Linked DNA regions of Homo sapiens: region 1 is linked to region 2. Evidence: fine-mapped expression QTL. A gene starts in region 2. The other region holds a variant in brackets. All regions are shown on one strand. Distances are between the middles of the regions. Region 1 overlaps DPYSL5 (dihydropyrimidinase like 5). Region 2 holds the start of DPYSL5 (dihydropyrimidinase like 5).

Evidence for each region.
Region 1: its variant is fine-mapped to the expression of DPYSL5 in prefrontal cortex (ROSMAP, PIP 0.95).

The regions. Positions count from the first base shown.
Region 1 is chr2:26,932,998-26,942,181 of GRCh38, forward strand. It overlaps DPYSL5 (dihydropyrimidinase like 5), which reads left to right. Exons shown (of 13, transcript NM_020134.4): 7 at 261-336; 8 at 1,581-1,737; 9 at 7,034-7,175; 10 at 8,953-9,095. Among named protein-coding and RNA genes, the nearest start is that of MAPRE3, 33 kb to the right of the region's middle. RefSeq lists an enhancer at 1,356-1,855. The variant T/TTTTG (reference allele first, on the strand shown) is at 4,745.
Region 2 is chr2:26,842,652-26,851,835 of GRCh38, forward strand. DPYSL5 (dihydropyrimidinase like 5) reads left to right here and starts at 5,481. Exons shown (of 13, transcript NM_020134.4): 1 at 5,481-5,603.

The DNA of each region.
Region 1 (9,184 bases), 90 kb after region 2:
GTCTTGAACTTCACAGGCTGGGCTTCCCGGTGGGCTCTGGTGCTGGAGGCTGTTCTCTGCCTCCCCGTATCATGCAGTTCCTGCAACCTTGCCCTGACTGCCAGCCCTGCATTCTCCGCTTAAGGACTGTCACCTTGAGGGTGGGGTTGAGTGACGCAGGGGGAGGCGCTGGTGCCAGGGCTGACTTTGCCAGGGTTATTCTGATGCTTGTGAAGTTTATGGGTCAACCCTCCCTACTTCCCACTGTTTCTTGTGTTTAGACTCACTGTCCAATCTACCTGGTCAACGTGTCCAGTATCTCGGCTGGTGACGTTATCGCAGCTGCTAAGATGCAAGGTGAGTCCATAGACTTGGCTGGACAGAGCAGGTCAAGTGGAGGGACTGGAGATGGATGGGGCCCATTAGCCGTGCTCACTCCTGGCCCCGGCTCCTGAAACCAGGACCTGAGCCAGCCCTTCCCTTTCATCTGCCACCGTCTTCCTCAGAGCTGCCCTGTGCTATGCTGGCTTTAGTCTGCTAGAACATGAGCTTTTTCTTCTGCAAATTTGTATGCATAACAGCTTTACGGAAGTGTCTGTCACTTCTCCTGGGTCTGGTAACATTTTCCAAGTTTTAAACCCACTCATTAATTAGTGTCTTTTTGGCCTCATAGATTTTACTAGCAGTTGCCTTGGCAACTAACATAAAATGCTGGACCAGTTTCAGTGGGCATTTCAGGGGCTGTTTGGGAAGTCCCTAAAGAAAGAACAGTGTGTGGGCCCAGCTTCCTTTTAGCCTCCTGGAACCCTGTGTATGAGTCCGAGGGGCACTTGTATGGCTTCTGTTGCGGATCGCCTGGCAGTACCTAAAGGCTTGCAGATGCTTGGAGTCCAGCCCCGCCCCAGGTGCTGGTGAGGGCCTGGCAGCAGGAGAAACAAAGTCACAGTCACAAGCCTGGGGAGACAGATCAGAAGCAAGGGCATCTCAGCCTTCAACTATAATCGATCAGAAGCAAGGGCATCCTGGCCTTCAACTCTATCGCCCTCTAGATCCCGCCACCTGCCTCTCCCCTCACTGAAGCCCCTTGGAGGGTCTCGCCTAGACTGTCGTCCCAGCCTGGTGACTGCTCCCACCTCCTGTCTCCCTGTCCTCCAGCCCTGCTACGGCCCTCCCTGTCCTACCACAACCGTTCTCTTGAAGCTGCTCACAGCAACTGCCTGTCCAGAAAACAGTCTAGACTGCTCTTTAGCGTGGCATTCGTGGCCCTGCATGCCTGTTCACCCACCGTCAAGCTCCATCTGCCAACAGCACCCTGCACACACCAGTGCTCTGGTCATCTGGCCAAACCAGACTCCTCAAAGTGCCGCTTGGTCCTGCTGGGCCTCGGTGCCCATGTCCCTCTGTCCTCCTTGCCTAAGTCAGCAGAATAGGGAGGCTCTCTGGGCTTGAACCCAGCTGTGCTCTTAAAAGCCCTGTGAGCTTGGGCAGGTCCCTTCCTGTCTCTGACCTCAGCTCCTTCACCTGTAAAATGAGAGGCACACACCAGCGATCGCTCAGGTTCGGTGGCTTCCTGGTTATGGTTCTGACCTTTCTTCTTCCAGGGAAGGTTGTGCTGGCGGAGACCACCACTGCACATGCCACGCTGACAGGCTTACACTACTACCACCAGGACTGGTCCCACGCGGCTGCCTATGTCACGGTGCCTCCCCTGAGACTGGACACCAACACCTCAACCTACCTCATGAGCCTGCTGGCCAAGTAAGGCGTTTCAGCAGCACATTGCAGGGATGTGTACATCTTTAGGAAGACGTCATAGAGGGCCCAGGAAACAAATCTGAGCTAGGTTTGATTTCATTGTGCCCATAGGATCATTGTGCTTTTCTTACCTTCTCTGAGCCCATCAGATAATTGCCATCCTATTGGGATTTTATGACCGCTTGATATGGAGTGAGATCTTCTGAAGTATAAGAGTGAAGAGCACATATAGAACTGTGAACCGTGGTTATTCGGAATTTCAAAGGACATTGATCTCTTACTCTAAAGCCCAGTGGGGAGCTGCAGAACGTGGCCTGTGACTTATCCTAGAATGTAGGGGTCCTTTCTGTTTCTTTTGTTCACCTCTCCCTCTTCTTGTTGGCTCCCGTGTGCCCCTTGTCTGTACATCCCTCCTTCTGTGGGTTTCTCCTCCTTTCCTTCCCCTTTCCCTTTTTCTTCTGCACTTTCTCCCCCTTTCCTTCCCACACCCTTCCTCCAGATCTCCTTTCTCCAGCTCTTCTATTTCTGACACTGCTTTTTCCCCATGCAATCCCAATCTAAAGGAAATGGTTTGATGAACGGTCTGAATTCAGTGGGACCCAATTATGGAAGGGTTTCTGTTTTATCCCAATAACTGCTTGCAGCTTCTTTCTCTCTCCTATTAACATTTTTGGGGCCAGGTGCAGTGGTTCACACCTGTAATCCCAGCCCTTTGGGAGGCCGAGGTGGGTGGATCACTTGAGATCAGGAGTTCAAGACCAGCCTGGCCAACGTGGTAAAACCCTGTCTCTACTGAAAATACAAAAAATTAGCCGGGCATGGTGGTGTGTGCCTGTAATCCCAGCTACTTGGGAGGCTGAGGCAGGAGAATCACTTGAACCCAGGAGGCAGAGGTTGCAGTGAGCTAGGATCATGCCACTGCACTCCAGCCTGTCCGGCGACAGAGCAAGACTCCATCTCAAAAAAAAAAAAAAAAAAATTGGGGGAGAAGACGATGCTTTCTCTTCACTTTTGGGTATTAAAGTTCCATCCAGTTTAAGACTTCATCTCCTTCCCTCCTGATCCCCAGCTCAGCTTGGGTTGGGGTAGGAGGACTAGGACAAAAGGCGAGGGGATTCTTCTCCATACCCAAGCATGCATCCCTCCCAGCTTGCAGCACTGGCAATGCCTCTGTGAACAAGGACCTGCACAAGGCAACTTATGCCTGGCCACCTTCTACAGTATCTGAGGCCCAGAGGAAGCCCACACAGCCTTTCTGCTCCCTGTGGCTCAGAGGCAGGTCCATAGCCCACAGTCCAGGCAAGGTGCCCACTGCTCTCAGCTCTGTTCTCCACAAGTGAACCTCTTGAAGTATGCCCTCCTTGTCTTCAGGGTGGACTGGTGAGGAGAGGGTATGGAAGCCCCACTCAACTCAGGAAAGAGGAGGGGAGGGAATGCCAGGACTCTCCATCCTGCCAACCCCTCAGTCTCCCTCCGAGGGTCCCGCTTTCTAGACCTGGGGGATGGGGATTCGCCTCTTCTAAGATGGTGCAGGAGCAGTGGAGGGAAGCGACTGGCCCCACCGAAGATGGCTGTCTTAGATAATAAGGTGCTTGTCTCATCCATGTCCTTAGCTTTCAGTTCTGGTTGCCAACCACTGGAAAACTCCCACTCCCATCCCGTTATGTTCACAACCTAAACAGAGTTGGGGGGTGCAGGGCTTAGCCAATGCGAGTGGAGTGCCATCGATAGGGGCGTGGGCGAAGGTGGCCTCTGTGGAGGGCAGTACGCACCACGGCATGGGGATGGTCATTGTATTCTGTCCCATAGCCTTGGTGGGTGCCAGGCGGCAGCAGCTCTTACAATATTTACATATTTACATTATGTAAATAAATATGGAGGGTAAAGATTAAGAGAGAAATGCTAGATCAGCTCTTACTCTTAAAAAATGCTTGTTTTGGCTGGGCATGGTGGCTCGCACCTGTAATCCCAGCACTTTGGGAGGCGGAGTCAGGCAGATTACCTGAGGTCAGGAGTTCAGCCTGGCCAACATGGTAAAATCCTGTCTCTACTAAAAATACAAAAATTAGCTGGGCATGGTGGCTCGTGCCTGTAATCCCAGCTACTCCAGAGGCTGAGGCAGGAGAATCGCTTGAACCCAGGAGGCGGAGGTTGCAGTGAGCTGAGATCGCACAACTGCACTCCAGCGTGGGCAACAAGAGCAAGACTTCATTTAAAAAAAAAAAAAAAAGCTTGTTTTGAGAAGAATCAACCTCCTTTTCATCATCAGCAATACAATAAAAGAAACAATTACCAAGACTCCACTATAATAATGTGGGCTTGGTTCCAAGGTCAAGAATCTTTTGAAACACCCCTGCTTGCTACAAGCAAATTTACTGAAAGAACAAAAAAGATAATAAGTGCTTCAACCCACCCAAATTACAGCGCCCAAACCCACACAAATTCAAATAGACTGGAATAAGTATCATTGAATAATTTAAGTTTTTATATCTAGCTTACTTTGTCAAATGTATTTTAATTATTTAAATTAATTCTATTTATTTAAGTAGAAATGTACTTTTTGTGTTATGATAATAGTCTGAATCCCTTTTTAATCCCTTTTTAATCAGTGCATATTGTAAATGGGTGCTACTTTATAGGATTTGGAGCATAATTTTAATATTTTAATATTTATAGAAATTTATGATGACTATAATTTTGCTTTTGTAACACATTATTGGTTATAATTTATATGATGCAAGATACTTGATAGAAAATTCAGACACCAATTATTATTCCTATAAGAAAATATGAGCTGTTTCCTAATTATCTACTTTAGGGTATGATTTGTGATTTGTTAGGCCCTGCAGGAATAAAAAAGTACAATCTATAGATATAACTATTTATGCTTTATTCTGGCTTGTTTTTTTTTTTCAGACAGGGTCTGGCTCTGTCACTCAGGCTGGAATGCAGTGGTACAACCTCCTGAGTAGCTGGGGCTACACGTGTGCACCACCATGCCTGGCTAGTT[T/TTTTG]TTTGTTTGTTTGTTTGTTTGTTTGTTTGTTTGTTTGTTGAGCCAGGGTCTCACTCTGTCTCCCAGGCTGGAGTGCAGCCTCCCAAAGTGCTGGGGTTACAGGCGTGAGCCACCCTGCACCACCGTGCCCAGCCTAATTTTTGTATTTTTTGTATTTTTTCATCATGTTGCCCATGCTGGCCTCAAACTCCTGACCTCAACTGATCCACCCGCCTCGGCCTCCCAAAATGCTGGGATTACAGATGTGAGCCACTGCACCTGGCCTAAAATCTGGTTTCTTAAAGGGACAAGAAATTTTTTCATTTGATCATATAAAATGTTACAGTGCTTAGCAAAGCCAGTCATGTTTTAAACTTTAAATGGTTTGGATGGGGGCTTCCTACCTCCCAGATTCAGGGCAGCACTGAGAGAGCTCAGAGGGCCTCCTAGAATGTAACTACCGTCATTCACAGCTGCTTAGTGGGTACCTTTGTGTAGGAGCCTTTTCAGAAAGCTGGGTGCTCAGGAAGACTTGCTGGTTAAAGAGCAGGAGTTGAGCCTGTTGCTCTCAGGGTCCCTGACCTGCCCTTCATGACTGCAGTGGGCATCTTCTGCCCTGAGCCCTGCTCAGGTATCCAGAGGGCCCCTCAGGAGAAAGGAAACCCTAAAGATTCCATTCATCTATCAGGGCTTCTGCAGGTCCAGAGAGTGTGGGGAGCCTTGGGGCTCTGCGGGAGAATCTCTTGCAAAGAGTCTCTGCAAGGGCCAGAGCAGCCTCTTTGGCCCAGAGAAGGCCCAGCCTACCGCACAGGAAGAGCGATGCATCTTCACCACGGGTTTGGCCAAAGACATTAGTCACTGGGCAGGAGCTGAGACTGATAAGCCCTGCCAGGTCCCCCGTGGAGACAGCCCTATGGAGCTAACTGGCCATCATCTGAGAGCCTTAAGAATATGCTTCCTCACCAGGTCAGATAATGCTTTCTGCCCCCACAGTCTCCTGGAGTGGGCATCTTAGATGGCCCACAGGCACTCACAAGGCTCTGGGGCCTCTTACAGAGTACAATGGGACCCCTGCCCCTGACCTTCAGGGCACCCACAGTGTGGTCCCAGCAGTCATCCCCTCCCCCACCTGACTCCCCTGCTCCAGCCAGGCCTTTCTCTGGCCCCGCAAAGCCATTTCCTCTTGAGGCCCTGACCTGGTTTGCGTGGGCATTCTCTCTCCTCCGCCCCTCACTGCCTCTGAGCCCTTGGCCTGCAGAGATCTCTGAATCCAGGCCACCTGCCTGCCTCCCTCATTGGGCAGAGGATCTGCTGCCATGAGCCCTCTCTCCCTGTTCTTCCCTACGTCTTCTTTGGCCCAGGAGCCCCTCGAGGGCCTGCCTGTGCCTTAGCCACCCACAGCCTTGGATGGAGGATGGCTTTTTTTTCATCTTTTCAGACAGAGTCTCCCTCTGTTCCCCAGGCTGGAGTGCATTGGGGCTATCTTGGCTCACTGCAGCCTCCGCCTCCTGGATTCAAGCAATTCTCTCACCTCGGCCTCCAGAGTAGCTGGGATTACAGGCGCCCACCACTACGCTCAGATAATTTTTTTCTATTTTTAGTAGAGACAGGGTTTCACCATGTTGCCAAGGCTGATCTCGAACTCCTGGCCTCCAGTGATGCACCTGCCTCGGCCTCCCAAAGTGCTGGGATTACAGGCATGAGCACCTGGCCCGAGGACAGCCTTAATATATGTGTGAGGACCGTAGTCATGAACGGCATTGGGGAAGAACTGAGTGGCTTGCATACCACTCTCGGTCTATTAAGTCAGGCTTCTAGCTCATCCCTCCTTCCCCTTCTGGGCCATTAGAATCCCCACATCCAAGGAAGGCTATGAGTCCAAGTTATTCAACAAAGCTTAACACTGAACTTGTGAATGCTTGTTGCCAGCAGGTTGGGGTTGGAGAGCTGATGAGAGGGAATTGGTATACAATTCCATGAGAGTAGAACTACCTCCACCATCTCACTTCAGCTAGACTCTAAGTTCGGCTTTTCTCTGCTATCTTCACTCTTAAACATTGCTATCCCAAGGCTCTCACTGAAGTCTCCTGTGACACAGACAGACTGTGCCACACTCATTCTGTAGATGAGTAAACTGAGGTTCACATAGATGCAGTAACTCACGACAGACCACATGGCCTAAGCGGCAGAGCTGAAATTGGAGTCGGCTTTGCCTGCTTCCCACACGGAGGATTTTCCCTATATCTATCCTCACCCTCTAAGTTCCTCACCTCCCCTCCCCTTACTGGTCACCTCCTTTTCTCTACCCAGTGACACTCTGAACATCGTGGCATCAGATCACCGGCCTTTCACCACAAAGCAGAAAGCTATGGGCAAGGAAGACTTCACCAAGATCCCACATGGAGTGAGTGGCGTGCAGGACCGCATGAGCGTCATCTGGGAGAGAGGAGTGGTATGTTTCCTAGAGCCCCGCCCCGATCTGATCCCTGCTCTAATCCCCGTTTCATCCCCGTTCTAATCCCAATAAGAGTATTCACTCCTCAGATCCTGTCAAAGAATGTTCTTAGAAGGGCTGGTTCAATCCCAGCTGTTTGTTTCACTCAAAAACAAAACACAAAAGGTCTTTCCCCCAATTAGAAAGGTAGTAAGACCTATTATGGAAATTTGGAAAATACAGAAAAGTATAAGAAAAAAAGAAACCTTAATTCCACGCCTAGAAATTAAACTACTATTAACATTTTAATATATTTCTTTCATTTAGTTCTGTGCATGTACTGTACTTTTTTTTTTTTTTTTCCTTTTTTACTATGTTGTCCAGACAGGTCTTGAACTCATGGGCTCAAGCTATCCTTCCACCTCTGCCTCCTTAAGTGCTGCGATTATAGGTGTGAGCCACCACACCCAGCTATACATTATTTTAATAACTGGCTTCATATTTTTTTCTTTTACCAACTGCTATACTAACCAGGATTTTTTTTCTTCATATAACACTATACCCTGAGTGTCTCCCTATATCAGTAAAAATTCTTTAAAAACATCTTTTTTCAGAGCTGAATGATATTTTCTCCAATGAAAGTACCATACTTTATTTAATCCTTCCCTGATGTTTGGGACTTTCGGCTGTTTCTAATTTTTGCACTTACAAATAATGCTGAGGAGAACCTCTTTGTTCAGGAGTGTGTGTCAGCATTTCTGATTATTATTATTATTATTATTATTTATTTTTTTTTGTGTGTGATAGAATCTCCCTCTGTTGCCCGGGCTGGAGTACAATGGCGCTGTCTCGGCTCACTGCAACCTCCGCCTCCCGGGTTCAAGCGGTTCTCCTGCCTCAGCCTCCCGAGTAGCTGGGACTACAGGCGTGCGCCACTATGCCCAGCTAATTTTTGTATTTTTTATAGAGGCGGGTTTTCACCATGTTGGTTGGTCAGATGGTCTCGATCTCTTGACCTCGTGATCCGCCCGTCTTGGCCTCCCAAAGTGCTGGGATTACAGGCATGAGCCACTGCACCCGGCCTCTGATTATTATTTCTGATTATTTCCTTAAGACAGCATCCTAGAAGTGGATTTTTAGGCCAAGGGATGTGAACATTTTTAAGGCTCTTGATTTGATATATTTTGTCTAATTGCTTTCAGAAAAGATAAGAACTGGGACTTCATTTGAATACCACCTGTTCCGCACATGAAGAATAAGTATTTTTGGTCTTGATCTATCTCAGATTAGATCTAAAATAGTATGAGCCCCAAAGAGATTTGAAGTTCTCAAGACTAAGCTCATGGAAGGCCAAGGAGATGGCTCAGGAAATCCCCTTGAAGAGAGTCCATAGTACTCTCATGGGTGGGGCAATAAGATGTTTTTCTAGAGCATATATAACCCTTTGAAAATATCACCCTTAGTAGATGAAGGGAGGTTCCTGACTCATCCGTGTGGGCACATGAGCAGAGCTGGTTTTACAAACAGGAGGCAGATTTGCCCCCGGGCAGGAAGCCTGAATGGAACCACGGCCACTCACCATAGTTGCTGGGTGAAGGGAGAAAGGAATAAGTGAGCAACTGGGACCCAGCCAAGCAGGCTGGCTCATCTGAGATGGTGCTCATGGCCTTGTCCCTTTGTGACCACTGTCCTGACCACCTAAGCCCTAAGTCCATGGGCCAGCATCAAAGGTGACCAAGGGTTTGAGACCCACCCCCAGAGCCTGGTTGACTTGACACTTTCTGCAACATTTCAGGTTGGAGGAAAGATGGATGAGAACCGTTTTGTGGCCGTTACCAGTTCCAACGCAGCTAAGCTTCTGAACCTGTATCCCCGCAAGGGCCGCATTATTCCCGGAGCCGATGCTGATGTGGTGGTGTGGGACCCAGAAGCCACAAAGTAAAGTTTGTTGCTCGTCCCCAGGGCTAGAGGGGCTTGGGATTTTGAAGAAGACTTGCATTACAGATCTCCAAAAGCATATAATTTTG
Region 2 (9,184 bases):
TTCAGTGGCGTGATCTTGGCTCCACCTCCAGGGTTCAAACAATTCTCCTGCCTCAGCCTCACGAGTAGCTGGACCACAGGCGTGCACCATCACACCAGCTAATTTTTGTATTTTTAGTAGAGACAGGGTTTCGCCATGTGAGCCAGGCTAGTCTCAAACTCCCGACCTCAGGTGATCCACCCGCCTTGGCCTCCCAAGTGCTGGGATTACAGGTGTGAGCCACCACACCTGGCCTTACTGGCTTACTTCTTTGGATTCACCTAATAAATAAAAATTAAATTTGGGGGCATGGGTGAGAGGATTCTTTCCTATGTTCTCAGCTCCTCCACCAGTAGGGGCTCAGTAAAGCCCTGTGTTGTGGAAAATGACAGGTAGGGAACCAAAAGGTGATTAAAGATCTGGCTCTTAGAGTAATTCTTTTGTTCCCTGAAGGTGATTGTTTGACTTATGTTTCTTGTCCTCATTATTATTCTTTCTAATACTCGAATTTTATTTGTTAAGGGAGAAAAAAGGCTTAAAACAAAGCCTCATTATCCTCATCTGGATAATGATGGCATTGTGAGACTATGCAATTTCTTGCTTTGTTTGGCTTAAAGAACCTCTATATGTGCGTGAAATAAATGCCAATTTAACGTTTTAGATTTCTGCTACAAGGCTGGGGCAGCTGGAATCATCCAGCAGTTCCTCCTTTATGCTGGTTTGTGGCCATTCTCGTTCCAAGAGAAGACAAACTTGCATTTCAAAATTAAACTCTGAAATTTAAAAATAAAAGCAGGAAAAAAAAAAAAACCAAAACTTTCCTAGGCCAGAAGGAATGATTTAAATTTTCGGAGAGCTCCTTGGCGTTTCAAGGGTAGTGATAAACCATTGGAATTTACTTTGATGTTTCAGCTCTAGCACAGCACCCCCTCAGCCTCCCCAGGCCTCCTCCTCCATCCCCTGTGTCTGACTGGGTAGTTACTGCTCTGGGGCCTGGAACCCTTCCAGTCTCATTCCCCTGTTTGTGTATCTGAATATCTCTATGTCTTTAGATCTTCTTCATGCTGCCTCTGTTGTCCTGTCTCCCTCTCCCAAAGTCTGTTTGTCTGTCTTGTTGCCCCCCCGGCCCCGTGCTTTTTAAATTTGGCTCCTGCTTTGTGGCACTGTCTTGAATACACAGGTTTGACTGCTGGTTGACATTTATTTATTTGTTTGTTTGTTTATTTTGAGATGGAGTCTTGCTCTGTTACCCAGGCTGGAGTGCAATGGCAAGCTCTCAGTTCACTGCAGCCTCTGCCTCCCGGGTGCAAGCGATTCTACGGCCTCAGCCTCTGGAGTAGCTGGGATTACAGGCCTGTGCCACCACACCCGGCCAAATTTTTTTTTCTTTTTTTCTTTTTTTCTTTTTTTCTTTTTTTACTGAGACGGCGTCTCGCTCTGTCACACAGGCTGGAGTGCAGTGGCCCGATCTCGGCTCACCACAACCTCCGCCACCCGGGTTCAAGTGATTCTCATGCCTCAGCCTCCCGAGTAGCTGGGACTACAGGCGGTTGCCACCACACCCAGCTAATTTTTTGTATTTTTAGTAGAGATAGGGTTTCGCCATGTTGGTCAGGCTGGTCTCAAACTCCTGACCTCAGGTGATCCACCTGCCTCGGCCCCCCAAAGTGCTGGGATTACAGGCCTGAGCCACCGCACCCGGCCTATTTTTTTTTCTTTCTTTTTTTTAGATGGAGTTTTGCTCTTGTTGCCTAGGCTGGAGTGCAATGGCGTGATCTCGGCTCACCACAACCTCTGTCTCCCGAGTTAAAGTGATTCTCCTGCCTCAGCCTCCTGAGTAGCTGGGATTACAGGCATGCGCCACCATGGCTGGCTAATTTTGTATTTTTAGTAGAGACGGGGTTTCTCCATGTTGGTCAGGCTGGTCTCGAACTCAGGTGATCCGCCCGCCTTGGCCTCCCAAAGTGCTGGGATTATAGGCATGCACCACCATGCCTGGCCTATTTTTTCTTTCTGAGACAGGGTCTCCCTCTGTCACCCAGGCTGGAGTGCATTGGAGCAATCTGGGTTCACTGCAACCTCTGCCTCCTGGGTTTAAGTGATGCTTTCACCCCAGCTTCCTGAATAGCTGGCACTACAGGCACTTGCTACCATACTCAGCTAATTTTTAAAATTTTTTTGCAGAGACAAGGACTCATTATATTGCCCAGGCTGATCTCAAACTCCTGGGCTTTGTGATCCTCCCACCTTGACCTCCTAAAGTGCTGGGATTATAGGCATGAACTACTGCACCTGGCCTCACTTTTTTTTTTTAATGGCTAACTAGACTTCACAATGTGTTCCCCACACTAGGGTTGTCACTGAGAAGTATAAGGAGCAAAAAAAGGTGAAAAGAGAAGGATGAGGAGGAAACTTAATATTATACAAAGCTCCTGGGAATACTGGAGAGCCCCTTTCCCGGGGGCACTTCGAGGAGGAACAGGTTGCCGCTGCAGAGGAAGGAACATCTGGGTTCCATGACTTGGCAACAGGCTCTCCTTGAGGGTCACTCACCGTCACAGGCTCTCTCTGCACTGGAGATCCGGCCTTCTGGAGGCTGGCAGGGAGGACGTGCTGAAGCAGGAAGGGCTCAGCTTTGCACCAGGCAGATGTCCTTTGGAATCCTGGCTCTGCTGCTTACAGCAGTGTGACTTCGCAGGCAAATCGTTTAACCTCTCTAAATCCAGATAGCCTCATTTGTAAGAAATGAGCAATGCTACCTCCTGTGTGGAGTAGCAAGGATTAAATGATGTGTTGTAAAACACCAAATAGACCCGGGCTCATAATAGGAGTTCAGACAGTGCGATTTTCCTCCCTCCTCCTTTCATGGTGGTCTTTAACTTGTATTTATTCTGAAGTTTGTTAAGGCTGTTGGGAACTCAGAACACATTTACTCATAAAAACCAGTAGCCCTGGGCTTTGTGAGGTCTGACCCCCAACCCCTGCCTAACTCACCATCCCCATTCTCTTCCCATCACCCTCATTCAGGGACTTGACTTTCAAGACATGGTGGGTTCTTCTGCTGTCTTCCAAATACCCGCTTGGGTTCCCCACCCATAAGCTTTTGCTCCTTCACCCCAGAATCTCAGACCTTTGCTTAGAACTGTCCATCAAATCAATATCCAGGTGAAATCCAAATTCTAGCTCCTCCATCTCCCAGTGTTATGCAGAACTGCTTTCTTTCTCGTCTGAATTCTTATTCTACTTTATCTGACCGAGTAGTAATATGAGCTTTATAATAAAAATCACAACATATTGCCTTTTGTGGCTGTTACTGTGGGGAGTGTCACATATTCTTATATCCCTCACACTGTTCAATAACCACTTTCTGTGGGATAAATAATAATAGCTGCATTTGTTGCATGCACACTATGCCAGGCAATGTGCTATGGCCTTTATCTACCTTTCTTCATTTAATTTCCACGACAAGGTTAAAAGAATGTATATGACCCCAGTATTCTGGGTGGAGCTAAGGGTCAGATGGAGTAAGTCACTTTCTCAAGGTCAAGTCGGCAGAAACTGAAGGAGCAAGGATTCCAACCCAGCAATGCGGGACTCCCAGCTCTGTGCTCTTTCTACTTCCCAGGAAACGGAGCCTAAGTTAGCAACAACAAACCGAAGTCGAGGACTGAGGACATATGCAACCCCCGGTTTGGGTGCAACCTTTATCAATATCCTAAACTGACAGATGACGTAGAGGCAGCCGTTTCGCTGACTAGGGAAGGTAGCCCAAGAAAGCTAAGATGCTAGAATCCAAATTTAAGGTCTACGAGACGCTGCAGAAAACATTTACAGTCACTAGAGGGCTCTCTCTCCCTTAAGCAAAAAGCGCAGCACCGCCCGCGCGCGGTAGTCTCGGAACCCCGCCGCCGGGAGGCCGCTGGCAGCTCCACGCCACCTCCCTGAAGCCCAGTCCATTTTGCCTACATCCCTGTCCGGGCAAGCCCTGGAGAATCCATAGGGCAGTGCCCCAAGCTGGAGCAGTTTTCACAGCCACATCCCGGGCTGCACTGGGTTAGGGATGCTTTGAGGTTCCTCTGGGGGCTCCCTGCTCTCTGCTTACCAAGCAGGCGGGAGTTGGGAAGGGGAGAAGGAGTGCAGACTCAGGGGTGGGGTAATCCAGAAATGCATCCCTCAAAGGCCAGCCTGGCCTGGTCCAGGCCCTAAGCTCTCTGGGGAAGGACGGCAGGGAACCCCGCCTTGGCGGGCTCTGCGGGTCCTGCGCCCGGGTAGATTTTGCTGAGATGGGGAGAGGGGACCCCCTCCACGCCCCCGGAGTAGTGAACACCATTTTGTTTGAAAGTATCCTGCAAAGAGAACCACCTCACGAGGCCATGGCTGCCAGGGGACTCCTCTCCCCACCGGATCGCCGGGGAGCCCGGGGAGGGAGGGATTCTGCAGCTGCAGCTTGGAGGTCCTTGATGCTGCATTTTAACGCGCATCGCAACGCCTTTGGAGTGACATTAAGTGCAAAGAGGCAAATGACTAATCCAAACTATTATTACAACTGCAGAAAATAACACAGATCAATGGCAAAGGCTTGAACCGGGATTAGCTAGGGAGGTGGGACAAACCGGGGATGATCCTTCCTCTCCTTTTTTAGATTTGTTTATTTTGGTAAATTATGTATGTATTTAAACATGAAGAAACAGGTGAAGCGAATGTAAATTGGGTTATAAATAATTTCCAAAGGCTTCGCTGTCCCTTGACAGAAGCCAGAAATAAGACAGGCACTGGGCCTGAGCGCTCTGGACAGGGAAGCACCCGCGTGGCGCTGGGCAAAATCTTCTCAGTGGAGAGAACGCACTCCGGGTTCGAGACCTCCCCGGGTGCAGATGCGAACTGCGGTGGCCCCAAGTGGCCGTCCACTTTGTTCATGAGAACAGTTTTCCTATAACGCCCACCCGGCCCTTTGCATCCCGCAATCCCGCGGGCGTCGGAGCGGGTCTTGGCGCGAACCAGGCGGCCTCGGCGGGGTCCTGCGGCGGAGGGCAGCGCGGCCGCAGCCCGGGAGAGGCGGCCGCGGCATTGTTTCAGCCCCTGGGGTGGGATCCAGCTGGGGGAGGGGAGGCGGGGTGTCCTCCGGAACCGCCCCCGGCCCTCCCTGGGGACCCGTGCCTCAGCGCGTCCAGGCTTTGTGGTGTCCTGAGTCGCCATGGAAACCCGAGGGAACGCGGAGCCGGGTGCTAGGGGGGTCGGTGAGTTCTCCGGCCGCGCCCTCCGTCCGCTCTCGGACCCCGGCCCTGCAGCAGGGCCTGCCGGGAGTTGTAGTCCCCAGGCGGCGGCGGCGCGCGGCGCCAAGGATGCGGGACGCCGCCTGTCCCCGCCTCCCCTTAACCTGCTAGCTGAGGTGGGGAGCGGCGGGAGGAGCCGGCCGCGCGGTGATTGGCGGAGGCCGCTCCCAGCCCCCGACACGCGCCCCTCCCCCGCTCCCCACTCTGGACTCCCGCGCTGGGCGCGCTGAGGCGGCCCCCGAGCGAGCGCGCGTGCAGCCGCCGCCGCCCCGAGCACCCGCAGCTCCGGCGCCGCGGCGAGACGGAGACGGACCGAGCCACGGGCCCCCGCGGCCGCAGCATCTCGGAGGAGTGGGTGATGGCAGGGGGGTCGGTGGGCTTACCCCTCCCGGGCTAGGACATCCTCCTCTCCCCCTTCTGTTTCTGCGTGAGGCGCACAAAAGGGCGGGGAGCCGGGTGAGCCTGGGGCCCGGCCGCAGGGGACGCGGCGGGAGGTGTGGTTTGGGGTTGGGAGGTGGCCATCGGGGCTAAGCCGGGGCGCTCTTGGGGTCCTCTTTGTACGCCCGCGAAGCGCCGTGCCGGGCCTTGCTCATAGTAAGCGTTTAATGCGTGCTCGCGGGGTTGCAAAGCCCTGGGGTGAGGAGGCGGCTCGGCCGAGGGGTTTCGCGCCTAGCACGCAGTGGGCCGCTTTCCTAGCCGGGCGCGGTGCAGTGGACCGCTGGAGGGCTGGGCGGGGGCGCCTCTGGCCGGGGGCCAGTCCTGCCGGTCCCAGGATCTGCGCTGTCCCCGGTCCCACACACCACCCAGATACACACCCTCCGTCCTTCTCGCCTCCGAGCTGGGATCTGCCCAGCCTGGACCCGACCCGGCGGTCTGTTCCACCGCCCGGCTAACGGAGCGGACGCCTGCAGAGGACTCGCCCGCCGCCTCCGAGCCTCCCGCCTGAGCCACAAAGGCCTCCTGCGGCTGCCCAGCCCGGAGCGGGCGCCGAGCCGGGTCCCTCGGCTGGAGCCCAGCGCGGGAGCCCGCCTTGCAGCATCGATCTCAGCGGGCACCGACGTCGACGCCCCGGGCCTGGGGACGGGGCTGTAGTCTGAGCTGGAGAGAAGCCGGGAGAGGGCGAGGGGAGGCCTCGGTTGAGAAAAGATGGGGATGGGGAAGGCTGGGGAGCTGGGTTAGGACAGGTAGTGGGTCTCGGGGAGCAGGGAGTGGGAACTAGGGTTTGAGGAGGAAAGAGAAGGGGCGGGGGCGGGTCCGAAGAACGAGGGAAGGAGCTCGGTGCAGGTGGCGCCCGGCGAGGCTGGTTCTGCTGAAGAATGGGGAGGGGAGGAGGGATGCAGGCGGGTGGAGGCCGCCTGGGTTTGAGGAGGGAGGACGGGAGCGAGGAGAAGACCCGCGCTGTGCGGGGGAGGGGGGCCTCCTGGGAAGGGGAGCCTCCCGAGGAGGGAGGGGCAAGCAGCTGAGAGGCGGTCTCGGGCCCGAGGATCCTCAGCTCCAGGCGCGGGGCCCCGCGGCCCAGGTGGCCGGCTGGGCGTGGCCCTCGGACCGGGGTTAGGGACCCAGGATGGCAGATCCGGGACCGGGCTGGGCTGGCTTGGTGAGGAGCTTTGTCTCCAGGCTTGAAACCAGCCGGTAGCGACTCGCTTAGGGTTTTGTGATCTTCCGCGGCGCCCACGGCACGCCCTTTTCTCGAGGAGCTGAAAGGCTTTGCCCAGCAGCAGGTGCTGCCAGGGAGGCGGATCTCCCTTCGGGGAGACCCGGAGAACAATAGCCGACCCTGGTGTCCATCCGACGACAAACCAGGGCCACCCAGGACGCGAGGGTGCAGTTTTCTGGTGCTGGGAATACTCCCTGCGGAACCTCCGGGCACGTGCTGGCTTTGGGGTTTTATGGGGGCCTGGCCACGCCGGGAATCCCGTGTGGGAGGCGCTCCCCCGGCCTGGGGGCCTGCAGACAGCCACCCCCCCACTCCGGCTCGGGTGCCTTCTGGTGCAGCGCCGCCGCCCGCCCCGCGCTGTCCACCCGCTGCCGAGACGCGGCGTGGTTAGCGGCGCGGAGCTGCCGGGCGGCGACGCAGGTGCCAAAGACTGGAGGTCGCCTCGGTGCAGCGCGGGTTCCCCCGAGCAGCGGCTTTGTCTGCCGAGGCGGCCGTAGTCTAGGGGCTGCAGCTGTGCTTTCTCAGGGGGAGCCGTAAGGGCTGGTGCGGATTGTGGTCAAATTGCGGAGAAGCGGGTGGAAATGATCCCGCAAGGGTGAGGCTCTAGGTTTGGGAGCCGCTGCTAGGGGTCCAGTGCTTTTCTTTGCCAGTGACCACACCCAAGCCAGTGCGTCTCTTGCAGACTTCGCCCATATTGTCTGCTGACCTAAGACTGGGGTAGCTCTGTGATAGGCGCTGCTTGCCCGTGGGAAAGCAGATGAACCGAATGGAAGCTTAAAACAGGCTTTCAGCAGGGCTTTCCACGCACTCAGCCTCTCGCCCGCCGTCTAAACACCTTGCAAGTCACCGCTGCAGCGCCTTGACATGTGAAGTGACACCCAAAGCCAGAATTCTGTGTTGCACTGTTGCTTTGATAACTGGTTAGATGACAAGTTAAAGGTGAATCTTTAGCATAAAGTTATCATTTTAAATTGCCATTCATTAAAAAAAAAGGCAGGAATGTTTTTGTTCCCAGACTGGGCGATACTTGGCATTGTAGAACTCATTGATGCCACTTACATTTGCCACTAAGTTAACTGAGAACCTGTTGGTTCTCTTAACCCAGCCTTGAAATCTCAGGATTTGCTTTCTTAACAAGATTAGTGTGTAAGGTGAAGGACTGTGCTGTGGCTGTTGGCTTTTGCCCAGGACAGATGATAGCTGTCAAAGTGAAGGCCTCTTGTCTGAGTGTCCTTTCTGGCCATAGGGAGTCAGCAGTAGGCTATGTCTTGCTGGTTTTAAAGGATGGTGTTTTGAGGAGGTGCCTCACAGAATTTACAAAACTGATCTGGAAGGACTAGCTGGAACATTGCTCATTGGTTGTTTTTAACTATATTTTAACTGAATTATATATATGTATATATTAATATGTATATACACACATATATATATACACATACTATATTTTACTAAATTATATATGCATGTGTGTATTTATGCATACACACAAACATGGATTCAGAGTACATAAATACTAGGAATCTCAATATTAGAAACCTAGAAATCTGACAGTGAAGGTTTTTTCTTGTAAGAGAGCTCCAATGGGAAACATGTTTTCATATTATTACCCAAAGGGAACAATTTCAGGAAGGAGTGTTTTGTTGGCTTCTTTTTTGTAATAATTTTATGGATTTTTAAAAGGATGTAATCTTCTTAAAGCACTCTGTGAACATCCATTGCAGTCTGTTCCTCATGGCAGGGAATCCATAGACAAGGAATGCCGGTATGACCAGCCTGACGTGAAGGCCTGGCTGTTGTCAGCGTAACCTCTCTAGGTGCAAACATTAGCAGGGTTGTTGCATTATTCTTAATGCTTCTATCTCTGGAAAGAGTTCCACAGCAAGGCAAGTTTACACAGTTGGCCAAAATCAGGTCTCAGGACTTGGCGTAAACTTCATTTGTGGCACTTCCACGTCTCTTCTCCTGCCATAGCTATCTGAGAATTTCCCCTTAATAGCTTCTCTGACCCAGGATTCTGTATGATCCTGCATTAGCTCCACGGGACTATAAGCCAAAGGACAGCATGACTATAGGCAGGTCTCTGGGGTAAAAGTAAATTGTGGCCAGGCACAGTGGATCACGCCTGTAATCCCAACACTTTGGGAGGCTGAGACAGGAGGATCACTTGAGGTCAGGAGTTCGAGACCAGCCTGGCCAACATGGTGAAACTCCATCTCTACTAAAAATACAAAAAAATTAGCCTGACGTGGTGGCGCACACCTGTAGTCCCAGCTAC